2 linked regions of the Homo sapiens genome follow. The protein of the gene in region 1 interacts with the protein of each later gene in a pairwise test. Each region holds a gene or a part of one and is shown on either strand. Other genes may lie near its edges. The genes, in order: SPIN3 and SPINDOC.

The links.
Region 2: the proteins of SPIN3 (region 1) and SPINDOC interact in binary tests that used the Homo sapiens proteins (3 or more experiments, as listed by UniProt).

Annotation. Positions count from the first base shown.
Region 1 is NC_000023.11:56,991,835-57,000,540, reverse strand, and holds the start of SPIN3 (spindlin-3), read left to right. Parts: upstream 1-4,999; 5' UTR 5,000-5,325; exon of another isoform or gene 5,326-5,482; intron 5,483-5,591; 5' UTR 5,592-5,593; coding exon 5,594-6,370; 3' UTR 6,371-8,706. UniProt on the Homo sapiens protein: Exhibits H3K4me3-binding activity.
Region 2 is NC_000011.10:63,808,053-63,816,869, reverse strand, and holds the start of SPINDOC (spindlin interactor and repressor of chromatin-binding protein), read right to left. Parts: upstream 3,415-8,817; 5' UTR 3,184-3,414; coding exon 3,057-3,183; intron 1-3,056. UniProt on the Homo sapiens protein: Chromatin protein that stabilizes SPIN1 and enhances its association with histone H3 trimethylated at both 'Lys-4' and 'Lys-9' (H3K4me3K9me3).

The sequences.
Region 1 (8,706 bases):
AAGAAAGCATTTGACAAAATCCAACACCCTCTAATAATAATAATAATAAACCTGTCAACAAACTAGGAATAGAAGGGAACTTCTTCAAGATAAGAGACATATATGCATTAAAAAAAGAGCTAAATTCACATTCAACAGGGAAAGGCTGAAACCTCTCCCCCTAAGTATAAGAAGAGGACAAGAATGCCCCCTCACTATTTCCATTCAGCATTGTACTGCAGTAGGTTCTAGACAGGGCAATCAAGTAAGAAAATAAGTAAATAAAAGTTATCCATATTAGGAAAATGTAAAACTATCTTTATTTACTGATAATACCATTGTATATAGAGATGATCCCAAAGAATCCATTAGTAACTACTGAAATGATTAAAAGGATTCAGTCAAATTTCAGGACATGCTATGGATTGAATGTTTGTGGCCCTGTCCCCTAAATGTATATGTTAAAGCCTAATCTCCAGTGTGATAATATTTGAAGATGGAGCCTTTGGGAGATAATTAGGTCATGAGGGTAGAGCCCCTATGGATGGGATTAATGCTCTTATAAGAAGTAGCCAGAGAGCTAGCTCTCTCTCTGCTCTCCACCATGTGAGGGTATAATGAGAAGATAGCCATTTGGAACCAGAAAGAGGGCCTATCCCCAGGGAACGAAATTGGCCTGTACTTCTTATCTTGGACTTATCTGGAGACCCAGTCTCCAGAACTGTGAGAAATATATGTTTATTGTTTCAGCCACTCATTCTATGGTAATTTGTTATAACAGCCTGAACTAAGACAAGATACAATATCAAGGCTTAAAAATCATGAGGGCTCAATCCCACAAGACTGCCCTGCACTTTAGATGCCAATTACAAGTTCCAGATTATGATCTGTACTTCTAACAGACCAACTATAAATCAGGGTTCTCATTCAATTAATTTGCTAGAGCAGCTCACAGAACTCAGGGAAACACTTTACTTACATTTACCCATTTATTGTAAAGGATATTACAAAAGATACAGATGAACACCCAGAAGGAAGAGATACATTGGGCAAGGTATGTGGAATGGGGTACCAAACTTCCATGCCCTGTTCAAGTGAGCCACCCTTCAGGAACCTCCACGTGTTCAGCTATCCCAAAGCTCTCTCTTTTTTTTTTAATTTTATTATTATTATACTTTAAGTTTTAGGGCACATGTGCACAATGTGCAGGTTAGTTACATATGTATACATGTGCCATGCTGGTGTGCTGCACCCATTAACTCGTCATTTAGCATTAGGTATATCTCCTAATGCTATCCCTCCCCCCTCCCCCCACCCCACAACAGTCTCCAGAGTGTGATGTTCCCCTTCCTGTGTCCATGTGTTCTCATTGTTCAATTCCCACCTATGAGTGAGAATATGCGGTGTTTGGTTTTTTGTTCTTGCGATAGTTTACTGAGAATGATGATTTCCAATTTCATCCATGTCCCTACAAAGGACATGAACTCATCATTTTTTATGGCTGCATAGTATTTCATGGTGTATATGTGCCACATTTTCTTAATCCAGTCTATCATTTTTGGACATTTGGGTTGGTTCCAAGTCTTTGCTATTGTGAATAGTGCCGCAATAAACATACATGTGCATGTGTCTTTATAGCAGCATGATTTATAGTCCTTTGGGTATATACCCAGTAATGGCATGGCTGGGTCAAATGGTATTTCTAGTTCTAGATCCCTGAGGAATCACCACACTGACTTCCACAAGGGTTGAACTAGTTTACAGTCCCACCAACAGTGTAAAAGTGTTCCTATTTCTCCACATCCTCTCTAGCACCTGTTGTTTCCTGACTTTTTAATGATTGCCATTCTAACTGGTGTGAGATGGTATCTCATTGTGGTTTTGATTTGCATTTCTCTGATGGCCAGTGATGGTGAGCATTTTTTCATGTGTTTTTTTGGCTGCATAAATGTCTTCTTTTGAGAAGTGTCTGTTCATGTCCTTTGCCCACTTTTTGATGGGGTTGTTTGTTTTTTTCTTGTAAATTTGTTTGAGTTCATTGTAGATTCTGGATATTAGCCCTTTGTCAGATGAGTAGGTTGCGAAAATTTTCTCCCATTCTGTAGGTTGCCTGTTCACTCTGATGGTAGTTTCTTTTGCTGTGCAGAAGCTCTTTAGTTTAATTAGATCCCATTTGTCAATTTTGGCTTCTGTTGCCATTGCTTTTGGTGTTTTAGACATGAAGTCCTTGCCCATGCCTGTGTCCTGAATGGTAATGGCTAGGTTTTCTTCTAGGGTTTTTATGGTTTTTAGGTCTAACATTTAAGTCTTTAATCCATCTTGAATTAATTTTTGTATAAGGTGTAAAGAAGGGATCCAGTTTCAGCTTTCTACATATGGCTAGCCAGTTTTCCCAGCACCTTTTATTAAATAGGGAATCCTTTCCCCATTGCTTGTTTTTGTCAGGTTTGTCAAAGATCATATAGTTCTAGATATGCTTCCAAAGCTCTCTTAACCTTGTTATTTTGGGTTCTTATGAAGGCTTCATTATGTAGACATCATGAGCCATTGGTGATCGATTCAACCTTTAACTCCTCTCTGCTCCAATCTTCTAATCATGCCCTGGTCTTTGCCGTGAACAGCCCACATCCTGAAGCTATCTAGGGGCTGCCAATCATCAGTCATCTTATTAGCATACAAAAGACACTCTTATCTCTCAGGATACTTCAAGGGTTTTAGGGGCTGTATGCCAGAAAAGGAGATCAAAGAGCAAATATATATTTCACAATATCACAGTAAACAATTCCATTTACCATAGCGTCAAAAATAATAAAATAACTTAGAAATAAATCTAACCAAAACTATAAAACATTGCTGAAATAATTTAAAGAAGATCTAAATAAATTGCAAGATACCCAGTGTTCATAGGAAACTCTGTTTGTGGGAAATTATGCCCTCTGGAAACTCTGTGTTCATGGATTGTAAGACAATATTGTTGAGATAACAATACTTCCCAAGTTTATCTGCAGAGTCAGTGCAACCCTTATCAAAATCCCAACAGTCCTTTTGTTCAGAAAAGGAAAAGACAATCCTAAAATTCATATGAAATTGAAAGGAACTATGAAATTAGCTGAGCATGGTGGTACATGCCTGTAACCCCAGATACTCAGGATGGTGAGACAGGAGAATCGCTTGAACCCGGGAGGTGGAGGTTGCAGTGAGCCGAGATTGTGCCACTGCACTCTAGCCTGGGCGACAGAGCAAGACTCTGTCTCAAAAAAAAAAAAAAAAAAAAAAAAAAAAAAGGAGCATGAGTAGCCAATACAATCTTAATAATATTTTCAGAGAAATCACACTTACTGATTTCAAACATACTGCACAGTTACAGTAATCAAAAAATAAATGTGGTTCTTGCATAAAGATAAATTAAAAACGTGGTTTTTGCATAAAATTCTATGAAATAGAATTAAGAGTCCAGATATAAGCCTATACATCTGTACTAAATTGATTTTCAACAAGTATGCCAAGACAATTAAAAAGGCTAAGAATTGTCTCTTCAACAGAAGGTGCTGAGACAACTGGATATCCATGTGCAAAACAATGAATTTGGTCCCCTTCATCACACCATACATAATAATTAACTCAAAATGGGTCAAAGACATAAATATAAGAGCTAAAAACAAACAAAATTTTACAAGAAAATATAGGGGTACATTTTCATGAACTTGGATTTGGCAGTGTTTATTTAGGTGTGACTCCAAACGCACAACCAAGTTTTAAGCTTTTGTGCATCAAAAATACTATCAAGAAAGTGAAGACACCCCACAAAACGGGATAAAATATTTTCATATCATATATCTGATAAGGTTCTCTCATCCAGAATTTAAAAAGAACAATTAACAGCCCTGCTACAAACAATTCATTTAAAAAATGAACAAAGCACTTGAAATAGACATTTCTCCAAAGATACACAAATGTCCAACAAGCACACAAAAAGATGCTCATCCTCATTAGTCATTAGAGAAATGCAAATTAAAACCACAATTAGGTACCACTTCATACCCACTAGGATGGCTGTAACGATAAAACTGATTGAATCACTTCTAAAATGTCTTTCTCCACAGATTTATGATCTCACAAATTCCTGTTTTAATTATAGCAATTGTTCTAAGTTTAGTGTCTAGGTTATTCTGTTCAAGTGAACAGAATAATTCATGCGCAAGCACAATTTATAGGTATTTAACAATTAAACGTCTGAAGATAGGAGGCAACGGCAAAATTATGAAAAATCCTAATGCTTAATTTTATGAAGCTACTACAAAACATGTTCTCAGAAAATATCTAAAAAATTGAGCAAATGTTTATTCTACATGGAAATGAGCAGGACATGAAAGTGCATATTCAAAATTATCCAAGCTTTGTAAGAGCTTAGAAAAAAGGAAAAGGAAATAGTGTTAATATTTCACTGTGAGCCCTGGAAAATGGGAGGCCGGCTTAGTTAATTATTTTCTCTTCATGTCAATTTTCTGAATTTTACAGTGTCAATATTGTGCATGCAATTCTTTTGCAATCAGGGGAAAAGAAAAGAAATCCTCAAGAAGTTAAGTCTGGGAATGACAAGTCAGTAAAAATTACGTAGATTGGGTCAAGATGGCAGCCTGAACACTGAGCAGTAGCGCATTTCTCTTGTCCTACCACAAATCCCCTTCAATGGAGGGTGGGGGGACGCGGGGAGGGAGGGGAAAGGAAAGGGCTAATTCCTGAAAGGTGGAAAGCAGAAGGGGCAGGGGCGCAGAGGGTTGAGGTTAGGTGAGGGGAGGGGCGCGTGCTAAACCAGAAGAGGTAAACCAATGCAGTGAGAGAGAGGTGGTTGTGGGCTCCACAGCTTCTGATTTGGAGGAAGCTGCGAGACCGAGAGCCTAGGAGCACCTTCCACGCCCAGGGCTGTGGTACAGGTTGGTGGGGGAGGGGCGCCACGCGGTGTTTGGCAGGAAGGGGAGGCCTCTCTACTGACCGGAAGCTGCGCTAGAAAAAGAAGGAGGAGACTGCGGCGCAGCAGCGACTAGTGGGAGTCCGATGTGGGAGAGGGGCTGCGGCCACCGCCACCGCCGCCGCCACCAGGAAGGCGGAGGACGCAGGAGCCAAGAGCAAGGGACGCCGCCACGGTCATCTTCGCCTGCCCCGCCGCCCTCTTAGAGACACTCATTGCCTATGGATCATCCTCTCCCAGCTTTTGCAAGCACCGGGCTGCTCGCCCGCTGATTTTCCTCCTCCATAGGCTCACTGCGGAGGCAACGGCGAGGTGTCCGATTTGTGCACTTGAGGCCCGCAATCCGGGACGGTGGGGAATCTGCGCCTCCTGGCCGGGTAGTGTTGGAAGCAGGGCGAGGGGAATGGGGAAACGCTTCGTATTTCACCGAACCGCAGATCTTAGCCAGACTGAGCTGGGGAGGAAGGTTACTGCAGGCACTCAGCCAGGGTGCCTTGATTTCCAGCTTTGCTATCTAGCTTTCGGGAAAAACAGGTGTGGGTTTACTGGGTGCGCTGATTAGGAGAAAAAGCTCTCCGTGTTATGCATTGATTTTGTTAATTTCCTTTCTCGGTCCACCTGGCAACTGTGCTCCTCTTCGCAGGCATGAAGACCCCGTTTGGAAAGGCAGCTGCAGGGCAGCGGTCCAGGACGGGCGCTGGCCACGGCAGTGTGTCTGTTACCATGATAAAGAGGAAGGCTGCACACAAGAAGCATAGGAGCCGACCCACCTCCCAGCCTCGGGGGAACATCGTGGGCTGCAGAATTCAGCACGGATGGAAAGATGGAGATGAACCTCTAACACAGTGGAAAGGAACCGTTCTGGATCAGGTACCTGTAAATCCCTCTCTGTATCTTATCAAATATGATGGATTTGACTGTGTTTATGGATTGGAACTTCACAGAGATGAAAGAGTGTCATCACTTGAAGTCCTTCCTAATAGAGTTGCATCATCTAGAATCAGTGATACACACTTGGCAGAAATAATGGTTGGCAAAGCAGTGGAACATATTTTTGAGACAGAGGAAGGTTCCAAAAATGAATGGAGGGGGATGGTCTTAGCTCAGGCACCTGTCATGAACACATGGTTTTACATTACCTATGAGAAAGATCCTGTATTATATATGTACCAGCTCTTAGATGATTATAAAGATGGTGACCTCCGCATCCTTCAAGATTCCAATGATTCTCCTCTGGCAGAGAGGGAGCCAGGAGAAGTCATAGACAGCCTGGTAGGCAAACAGGTGGAATACGCCAAAGACGATGGCTCCAAGAGAACTGGCATGGTCATTCATCAGGTAGAAGCAAAACCCTCTGTGTACTTCATCAAATTTGATGATGATTTCCATATCTATGTCTACGATTTGGTAAAAACATCTTAGAGGTCATCTTGAAATTTGCCAAATATATGAGACTCTAAATCTGTAGACACAGAAAGTCTTGATTGCTTTCCAGTTTGTAAGAACCATCTTCTCCCTTTTTGCACGTTTTGCTTGGCAAAAAAATTGGAACTTCTGCCCTCTCATACGTTTTTGGAAGAAACCTTTTGCCCATCTGTCCAACCTTTTCACTGGTTCCTCTCCGCAATTTAACTGATTAGTGAGAAGGGTAAAGTCTGACATCCATTGGCTCATACTTTTTTTTATCTTGGGTGGTGTTAATAGATTAAAGGTAGCTGAACACCTCTCACCTCACTCTTTTTGGCACTTGGACTCTACACTCATTGAGGTGTGAAGCTTGCTGAGATATCCCATGTGACTGGCTGGGTAAGTGTCTTTGCAATCTCAAATCTCCCCCAAGTGGCTTCAAAAATCTAACTTGGGAAAGAGTGGGAAGCCCATTTTGGTCTCTTGTTCAAGTTGCATTCTCAGTTCTAACTGTACTAAAAGTAAGGCTAATAATTTTGCTCTCTTTCCGGTTCTTTCACCTATTGCTCAACTGTTTTAGAATTAAGAAGGTAATTACTTTGCATTTTAGTACCTAACCATAGGCTGAGAAACCTTGCAAAACTGATAAGAAGACAAGCATTTGGGGACCAAACTCCAAGTGGAGAGATCAAGATTTCTGGTGGAGCTTAAGTGAAAGGTTTTAGTCATCAGTGGCATTAGGGTCTCTCTTGTCTCCAATAGCTCTGGCTGGTATCTGCAGACATGGAGTAGGTTTTAACTGATAGAAGCTGTGCAGGCAGACTTTAGCACAAATGGTCTTTGCCAGCCCAGAGGAGCATTAAGCCAGGCTCTAGCTAGAGCCCTCAGTCACAGGCAAAGGCTGGGTTTGGCTGGGTTTGGACAGATCTGTCCAGAACCTCAAAATGAAAGAGGAGAAACCTAGAATCAAACTGAGATACAGATTTCTTTGCTGTGCTAAGAGAGACTCAAGTTTTAGATTTGATTCTTAGGAGACTGAATTCAGAGTCCCAGCATGTGAGGTGGGCAAGGCACTTGTGAGAACCAAGAATGGCTGAAAGCAGGCTATACTTCCTTGCAGGGACTGGTGGGCTCATCTATTATGGTATCCCAGCAGGACTTGGAACACAGTCAGTGGTAGGTAATCTGTAGGCTTAATGATGTTTTAAGTGCTGGCATTGGTAGATAGAAATCTAATAGATTTTTGTTAGTGTTTGGATTTTTAACTATCCTGTTTCTTGGCTGGCCCTAAGAAACTTATATGCAGATAAGGGTGAGTTCTACTGTGGCAGAAAAGTAAACAATGGAAGGGCCTTTGAGCTTTCCATTATTAAAGAGCCATTGGCGGAGGTTAACCAAAGCCTAGGAAAGAAAAGTTGAAGTACAAGCATGGTTTTTGAGAGAAGCACCTGGCCAAAACCAAAGCTTTCTCATTGAGGTTCTCACAGAAGCTCCATTAGCAGTAACAGCCTAATAAGGCCATGGAGTTCTGCACATTTGGGGCTGGGACTCAAGGCAGTACAATCATATTGGGACTGTACTGCAAGATATCTTCCAAATTAGTTTAAGTTCACAGGTCATGGAGTCCAGACTACCGGCACAGATTGGCATCCTGCTGAGGATGAAACAAAGAAGATGTTCTCTTTTCTCCTATGTTTTATCTGTCTACTTTTGCTTTTTGATGCCACTAAGTCTCTACTATGATGTTTGACTGACAACAGCAATGTGGGTCTGTATTGCCCTATGTTCTAAGTCCTGGGGTCATATATTTGCTTAAAAAAACTGTTCTAGTGGCTGGGGACTAGTGTGCTTTCTAATTTTTTTGATGTGAGGTTGATATTGTGATAATCTTATGTCTTCTTGACCCTTTGGACTCTTTAATATGTATGACATGCAATTGTGGGGTTAGATTAATTCAACTCCTGAGGTCCTGAAGGAACTTCACCCAGTCAAGAGGAAGACAGCCAAGGCTGCAGCTGCTGAAGGAACCCCATATCTGGGCAGACATCTTTGTGAGATCTATATGGCTGAAATGAGAAAAACGAGAAATTGGGAAAGGCAGAATTTTGGACTTTAATTATTTTGGACTTTGAATTAGAAATTTAATTTTGGGCAGTCCTTTTTCCCTTGGAGTTTAATAGTTGATGGGGTGGGGGTGAGGTCATATAGTTCAAACTAAGGCATTTTTATTATGTTGTTGATATTGTATTATTTGGAGTATTTTAATGCTATCTTTGGGAGTCATTGTATAATTGTTGTCAGCTATGTCAGGAAATATGGCTGGACATAATTGTAAATTAGGGCTGCAATTG
Region 2 (8,817 bases), on another chromosome or scaffold:
CCCTCAGAACTCGCCTCCCTTCTCAGTGCTCACAGAGCATTTACAGCCATGGTCCCACTCCTATTGCTGCCTGATACCTGCTCTTTGTGTACACAGACAGACCATAAGCTTTCACAGGGCATCACCCTTTCCAGTTCAGCAAAGAAGGCAGCCTTAGACCTGCATCAGCCTGGAAGCTCAGTGCTTTTACGAAGTGCCCATGATCCTTCACGGCTGCATCTCCCTCCTACCTTCCAGAGAGGATGGGACAAAATTAAAACACAGGAGGCCCTAATACCTGGGGGCTGCATGGAAGAGGTGGTATGAGAAATAGGAGCCTCGGCTTGCATGGATACAAGAGGTGGTGTCTGAAAGAGATACGAGATATGTCTTGTACCTATCTCTCATGCGACCATGGGCAGAAATGACCTCTCAGTTGCAATCAGCTTTCTTCCCTACTAGTCTTCCAAAACAGCTCTCATCCAAGTCAGCAGTGCTAAACTCTGCGGTCAGTTTCTCAACTTCATCCTCTGCCGATCACCTCTTCCATCTTGATTTTCATCACTTGCGTCTAGGGCATGACCTTCTGTTGGTTCTTCTTTTGCTTCCCTGGCCCTCTTTCTCAGTTATGTGTGCTAGTTCTTCCTCATCTCTTCTCAATATTCCCTCCCTTCCTCTGGCTTGTTGCTGAAGACCATCTCCCCTCACTAGAGCACCCCATTCCCCTTATGCATCACCTCCAACACAGCACACATCACCACCTGGCACTTGTTTTTGGGATGTTCACTGCCTGTCTCCTTACCACACCATAGCATCCATGACCACGGCCAGGTGCGGTGGCTCACGCCTGAATCCTAGCACTTTGGGAGGCCGAGGTGGGCGGATCACCTGAGGTTGAGAGTTCAAGACCAACCCCACCAACATGGGGAAACCCTATCTCTATTAAAAATACAAAATTAGCTGGGCGTGGTGGCACATGCCTATAATCCCAGTTACTCGGGAGGTTGAGGCAGAAGAATCACTTGAACCCGGGAGGCGAAGGTTGCAGTGAGCCGAGATTGTGCCATTGCACTACAGCTTGGGCAAAAAGAGCAAAACTCCGTCTCAAAAAAAAAAAAAAAATCCATGACCATACAGATTTCTGATGTTTTGCATCTGTATCTCCAGCATCTGTATCTGTATCTCCTCGCATGCAGTGGCATTTAGTAATGTGTGATGAGGGACTGACTCGGTCTCCAACCTGCCATCACTGGAGTTTCCCAGGACTCAGTCCTTAGACACTTCTCTACTTCCTTCTCTTCCCACTGTCTGCCTGCTGGCAATTTCTGTTTACGCCACTAGCTAGATACTTCCAGGAAATCTAGGCCCATGTATCTGACTGCTTAGTTGACCTCTCCACCTGAATATGTCATAAATAGGCATCTCAAACGTAATCATATTCAAACTTTCACTCCCAGTCTCCCAAGAGCACCGCAGCCTTCCCCATCTCGGAAAATGGGAAGGCTCTTCCTCCAGTTGCTCAGGCCAAAAACCTTGAATTCAATCTTTCTTCCTCTCTCCACCGAAATCTTTCCAGAAGCTTGTGCTGCCGGACCTTTGCACTTGCTATTCGGCCTGAAATGCTCTTCCTGCAGATATCTGCAAGGTTGGCATCCTCACTTCCTTCGGGTCTGTGCTCAAAATTCACCTTATTAGAAAACCCTTTCTGAACCACTCGATATATTCAATTAAATACCCATTCCTCCTCTTTCTCCTTTTCCTGCTTTAGTGATCTCTGAACCATTTATTGCCACCCAACATACTATACATGAACCTATTTCTCTGTCTTTAGCCATTGGTATATATATGTTCTTCAAGAGCAGGGTTTCGGTTGCTCTGTTTACTACTACTTCCCAGCCTAAAAACACTAGCCTAAACAGCCTAAAGTAGACGTCCAGTGAATATTGGTTGAATGAATTCACCTGTCTATTCCTGCCCTAACAGTGGGGATAAGGCCACCCTTGCAGGGTTGAGAGGATTAACTGAGACAGCCTCTGACAATGCCCAATGAACACTCAACAAATATTAGCAGAAGTAGGAAAACAACCTATCTTTTGGACTAAATGCTCCGAGAAGGGAGGTGACCTTTATTTCCCTCATGAATTTTATAACCCTTCCAGTTCCAAAAAGGATGACAGGCAGTGCAGGCAGACATCATTCTGTTCGGCTGAAGTTCAATGAATGGCATTGCTGCTCTCAACCTCTTTTGGGTACTATCCCGCCTAAGAAAAGCGGGGTGGGAGAATGGAAATATATTTGCATTTTCATGCATATTAAGTCTCCCACAAAGATGGCTCTTTGTTTTCTTACGGTTTGCAAGCTCCTGAGGACTAGAAATCGGTGAAGGGGGAGGGGAGAGCGAGTGTTCTGAGATTGTTCCTCCCATCCCCTCCCAAAGCTAATCTCGTTCTAGCACTGCACTGCTTTTCCAAACTAGCTGTTGTATGCAGTCCCATTCATCCCTTCTCTCCAGAACTTGACACCTGTGGCTCCTGCAAGTGGAAGGCCCGGGAATGGGAATGAAGCGGGGTGGTGGGCAGGGAAGCGTTATGCTCGGAGAGCCCTTAAAATTCTCCTGGAGGTCGGCAGCGGCGCCCGCCTGTAGCCTCCGGCCTAGAGGCTTCGCCGCCCCTCGGACTAGAACACAGCCCGGCCGTTGTGCTTGCCTCCCCTTCCCAGGCTGTGAGACGGCGGCCGCAACCACCCAGCGCCTCTGGGGATCCGGCCTCTGGTGCTGGGCCCGGGAGAGGGGGCGCTTGGGCACCGGAAGATCCGGAGCGTGCGGGGCGTGGATCGAAGTCTCCAGACCCTGGGCGGGGGAAAGGGGAAGGGAGGGGGAAATCGAGGAGGCCTGAGCTTCTAAACCATGGTGGGGGAGGTGCAAGAGCGCGCCCTGGACCCAGATCCGAGAGGGAAACCTGGGCCCCAAGGCTGAAGGGGGTGAGAAGGTGCCCGGGTCCCGGACCCCGACTGGGGAGGGACGGCCCCAGCCCCGGCCCCGCACCGTGACGCGGAAGTGGAATCCCCTCCATCCTCACCTCTGAGCATCGGCTCGGGCCGCGGAATTACGGCCACCACCATGGCCTCCTCCTCGTCCTCCCCTTCCTCGCATTTCAGCGTCACCTCGAAGCAGTCGAGTGCGGCGCCCTCGGCCTTTAGGGCCATGGTGCGGCCGTGGGCGATAGCAGTGGCCGGAGGACTGGCGCGCAGGCTTCGGCGCGCAGCCGGCAACCGCCTCCCGCCTCCTGGCCGGAATAGCGCCGGGCCCGCCGCCCGCCCCGCGCAGCCCCCTCCCCGCCGCCCGCCCGCCGCTCGCCGGCCGGGCCTGCGACCGGCGCGTCCGGGCCTCCCCGAGACCTCGGCGCGTCGGGAGCCCGGGCGGGGAGGGCTCAATCCGGGGCCCCTGCCCCCCGCCGCTCCCTTTTATGGAGGCTCATTGTCGGCGCCCGCCCGGCCGGCCAGCCGCGGACCCGCCCCCGATGCCGCGCGGCCAATCGCGCGTGGCCCCGCCCCGGGCACGCGGCCCCGTTAGAAACCCTGGACCCGGGAGGCGGCGGGAAGGGCCGAGGGGACCCGGGGCCACCCGGTGCGCAGAGGCAGAGGGGCCCCCAAAACCCGCAACGCGGGCCCCTCAGTCTGCGGGCCAAGCCCGGGGTTTCCCTCCATTAAGAAGTCAGTTGGGCGTTTCTGCTGGCGTGGAGAGCGCTACCAGGTGCCCCCGGATTTTGATCGGGAGTCGCTTTTGCCTTTCCGTGGACAAGCCTTCCTCCGCCAGCAGATGCCCCGGGCAGGAAGAGAAGCGGTGGGTGAGTGGAAAGGGCCTTGGTATGGAAACGCAGAGACCGAATTCCTTCTCATCTGCCAGCTCCGTGGCCGTGGGCACATTATCTGTTTTCTTAGTCCGGCTCATCGTTTCTTTCAAAAACCATTTTGGACCCTTCTGGGAAGGCAAAGAAGAGAAGCAGAGTGGACTGTGAGCGGACATAAACCACCCTGATGGGTATGATTTCCATTTTTGGCACGGGAGTCCGGAGATTTTGTGACCCTCTCCAAGGACACACAGCAATCCCTTGAGAGCCCCAAGACCAGAGTCCAGTTGCCATGACATTGCTGCCCTATAACCACACTCTGGGTGAGCTTTTACTTCTGTGACATGGAATGTGCATCTCCCTCTTCTATAGCAACCCTCATGAGATTTCAGCTCAGAAAATGCAAAATGTCTGACACTGAAAATCCATCTTCGAATGTCGTTATATCAGACCAGACACAGTAGTATTCAGAATCGCGTAGTAGGATGGGGGTGTGAGAAGAGGTGTGAACTAGTCTATATGGATTGCAGTCAATTTTTTAATTTTTTTTTTTTTGAGACAGAGTCTCGCTCTGTCACCAGGCTGGAGTGCAGTGGCGCTATCTCGGCTCACCACAACCTCCGCCTCCCAGGTTCAAGCTATTCTCCCGCCTCAGCCTCCTGGGTAGCTGGGACTACAGGCACGTGCCACCATGCCCGGCTAATTTTTGTATTTTTAGTAGAGACGGGGTTTCAGCATGTTGGCCAGGATGGTCTTGATCTCTTGACCTCATCATCCGTCTGCCTCGGCCTCCCAAAGTGGGATTACAGGCGTGAGCCACCGCGCCTGGCCTTGCAGTCTATTTTTAAGGGAATTATTTTGTTATGTGCAAGTGTATCTGATATTTTAAAGGTTTTACAACAAAGGTATTACCAAGCCTGTTTAACTATTTCTGCTGAATGGTCATTCTCTACCATTTGCTACAGATCCCTTCCGTGCCCCTCTGCTCTGCTCTGTATTGCAGTGGGCTGAGTCTTGCGGGGGGCAGTTTCTCAGGCTCCCAGAGCATCTGGCTTCAGGCCTCGGTTTAGCCAATGGGAGGCAGTGGCAGGAGAAGAGAAGGCAGGAGGAAAGAAAGAGCCATGGTATTTCTTCTCTTTCTCTCTCTTGCTCAGGCTCAGGTGACATCTCCAGCAGCAGATGAGGCCTCTCTGTGGCTCCAGCTCATGGATAGGTAGCTGTGGTCCCAACATCTGTAGGATGATCCATGCCCCTGGGCTCTACTCAGTCCACCTCCTCTTTTTGTCCCTGCAGGTTAGGAGTTGTAGGCAGCTTCTTGCTTTTGCCAGTCTCTGTACTGCCTCTCTCTGTCCCCTGCTGGGCTTTCCAGACCTCCCTGTTAACCCCTGTTAATCGTGTCACCAAAACCCTGCATTACATTCTCTCTGTTTTCAATACTTAAAGTGGTTCCCTCCTGGCGGGGCGCAGTGGCTCCCAACTGTAATCCCAGCAGTTTGGGAGGCCAAGGCAGGTGGATCACTTGAGGTCAGGAGTTCGAGACCAGCCTGGCCAACATGGTGAAACCCTGTCTCTACCATAAGAAAAAAGAAAAAAGAAATTAGCCCGGCATGGTGGTGTGTGCCTGTAATCCCAGCTACTTACGAGGTTGAGTCAGGAAGATTGCTTGAGCCCAGGAGGCGGAGGTTGCAGTGAGCCAAGATCATGCCGCTGCACTTGACTCCAGCCTGGGCGACAGAGCTAGATTGTCTCAAAAAAAAAGTGGTTCCTATTTTCCTGGTTGAACCTTGAGTGATACACCCAGTATTGTACCACCCAATTAGTAGACATTATTTCTTTTAGGTCATATTATTCTCAGCTTATAGAGCAAGAAGTTGAAGCTTAAAGGGTTAGATTACTTGCCCAAGGTAATACAGCAAGAATCTTATTTCATCCAACCTAGAGTGAATATTTCCCCCACATTTTAATATCCCTCAAATGGTGATGCTTTCTATAATCAACATCAACGTGAAGTTTAGGACTGAAGTTTAGGACTATCAAGAAAGTGAAAGATGGCTTTTCTGGCATTCAGACTGTGCTGTTACCAGCAGAAAGTAAGCTATGTTTAGAATGAGACATAGATGAAGCCACTTCATGACCACAAAGTGACTTCGCCTTTTTTTTTTTTTTTTTTTTTGAAATGGAGTCTCACTCTGTCACCCAACCTGGAGCGCAGTGGTGCAATCTCGGCTCACTGCAACCTCCGCCTCCCGGGCTCAAGCAATTCTCTGCCTCAGCCTCCCAAGCAGCTGGGATTACAGGCGCCTGCCACCACACTTGGCTAATTTTTGTATTTTTAGTAGAGTCAGGGTTTCACCATCTTGTCCAGGCTGGTCTTGAACTCTGACCTTGTGATCCTCCTGCCTCGGCCTCTCAAAGTGCTGGGATTACAGGCGCGAGCTACTGCTTCCGGCCTTTTTTTTTTTTTTTAAAACGGAGTTTTGTTCTTGTTGCCCAGGCTGGAATGCAATGGCGCAATCTCAGCTCACTACAACCTCCGCCTCCCAGGTTCAAGATTCTCCTGCCTCAGCCTGCCGAGTAGCTGGGATTACAGGCATGCGCCATCACACCTGGCTAATTTTGTATTTTTAGTAGAGACGGGGTTTCTCCATGTTGGTCAGGCTGGTCTCGAACTCCGACCTCAGGTGATCCGCTTGTCTCGGCCTCCCAAAGTGCTGGGATTATAGGTGTGAGCCGCTGCTCCTGGCCGACTTTGCCTTTTTTTAAAAAAAGAATTTTTTTTTTTTTAGAGATGGGGTTTCACCATGTTGTCCAGGCTGGACTCAAGCAATCCACCTGCCTCAGCCTCCCAAAGTGCTGGAAAGTAGGTGTGCGCTACTGTGCCCGGCCTGACTTCACCTTTTTTGGAGCAATTGCTATTTCTCTTTAGCAAAAATTACTGTAGTCCAGGCTGGGCGTGGTGGCTTACACCTGTAATCTCAGCACTTTGGGAGGCCAAGGCGGGCTGATCACTTGAACCCGGGAGGCAGAGGTTGTAGTGAGTCGAGATTGCGCCACCGCAATCCAGCCTGGGTGACAGAGCGAGACTCCATCTCCAAAAAAAAAAAAAAAAAAGATACCCAGTTTCTGAACTGCCCCTGTTTCTTGACAGCATTCAATCCTGAACCAGTTCCATTTCCCTAATTCTTCCATAGAACTATGGGAACGAGGCCAAATTTAAGGAGTTTCCTGAGGGTGCCTTGAGGGTTTCCCTGGGATGTATTCTCCTTCACTGCAGCAAATTAAACCTAATTTTGGTTACAAGTGTGTTCCTGGTGGTCCTTGGTCACAGGGCTTTGACAACCCCAACCAATTTATTTTGCCTACATTTTCATGTATATGAAGAGTGATATATCATGAAAACCTATGTTAAAATATCAACAAATCTAGGGCCAGGTGCAGTGGCTCACACCTATAATCCCAGCACTTTGGGAGGTCAAGGCGGGAGGCCAGGAGTTCGCAACCAGCCTGGCTAACATGTCCAAACCCAGTTGCTACAAAAAATACAAAAATTAGCTGGATGGCTGGGCGTGGTGGCGCACGCCTGTAATCCCAGCACTTTGGGAAGTCAAGGCGGTTGGATCACCTGAGATTCGGAGTTCGAGACCAGCGTGGCCAACATGGTGAAACCCTGTCTCTACTAAAAATGCAAATAATTAGTCGGGTGTGATGGCGGGCACCTGTAATCCCAGCTACTCAGGAGGCAGAGGCAGGAGAATCGCCTGAACCCAGGAGGCGCAGGTTGCAGTGAGCTGAGATTGTGCCATTGTACTGCAGCCTGGGCAACAAGAGGGAAACTCCATCTCAAAAAAAAAAAAAAAAAAAAAATTGCCAGGCACAGTGGCTCATGTCTCTAATCCCAGCACTTTGAGAGGCCGAGGCAGGGGAATCACCTGAGGTCAGCAGTTCGAGACCGTCCTGGCTAACATGGTGAAACCCCATCTCTATTAAAAGTACAAAAAATCAGTCGGGTCTGGTGGTGGGCCCCTGTAATCCCAGCTACTCAGGAGGCTGAGGCAGGAGAATCACTTGAACCCAGGAGGTGGAGCTTGCAGTGAGCTGAGATTGGGCCATTGCACTCCAGGCTGAGCAACAAGAGCAAAACTCTGTCTCAAAAAAAAAAAAGGCCGGGCGTGGTGGCTCATGCTTGTAATCCCAGCACTTTGGGAGGCCGAGGTGGGTGGATCATGAGATCAGGAGATCGAGACCATCCTGGCTAACATGGTGAAACCCCATCTCTACTAAAAATACAAAAAATTAGCTGGGCGTGGTGTCAGGCGCCTGTAGTCCCAGCTACTTGGGAGGCTGAGGCAGGAGAATGGCATGAACCTGGGAGGTGGAGCTTGCAGTGAGCCGATCTCACGCCACTGCACTCCAGCCTGGGCGACAGAGTGAGACTCCGTCTCAAAAAAAAAAAAAAAAAAATTAGCTTGGTGTGGTGGAGTGCCCCTGTAATCCCAGCTACCTTGATGTCTGAGGCATGAGAATCGCTTGAATCTGGGAGTTGGAGGTTGCAGTGATCTGTGATTGTGCTACTGCACTCCTGCCTCGGCACTCCTGCCTCGGTGACAGGGCAAGACTCTGTCTCAAAAAAAAAAAAGAAAAAAAATCTGCAAGTCTAAAAGAGCTCTTTTTTTTGTTGTTGTTGGGACAGAGTCTCACTCTGTCTCCCAGGCTGGAGTACAGTGGCACGATCTCGGCTCACTGCAACCTCCATCTCCCAGGTTTCAGTGACTCTCCCATCTCAGCCTCCTGAGTACCTGTGATTACAGGCGTCCGCCATCACACCCGGCTAATTTTTTGTATTTTTAGTAGAGATGGGGTTTCACCATGTTGGCCAAGCTAATCTCGAACTCCTGATCTCAAGTGATCCGACTGCCTTGGTCTCCCAAAGTGCTGGGATTACAGGCATGAGCCACTGCACCGGCCTAAAAGAGCTCTTTTAATTTTTTTT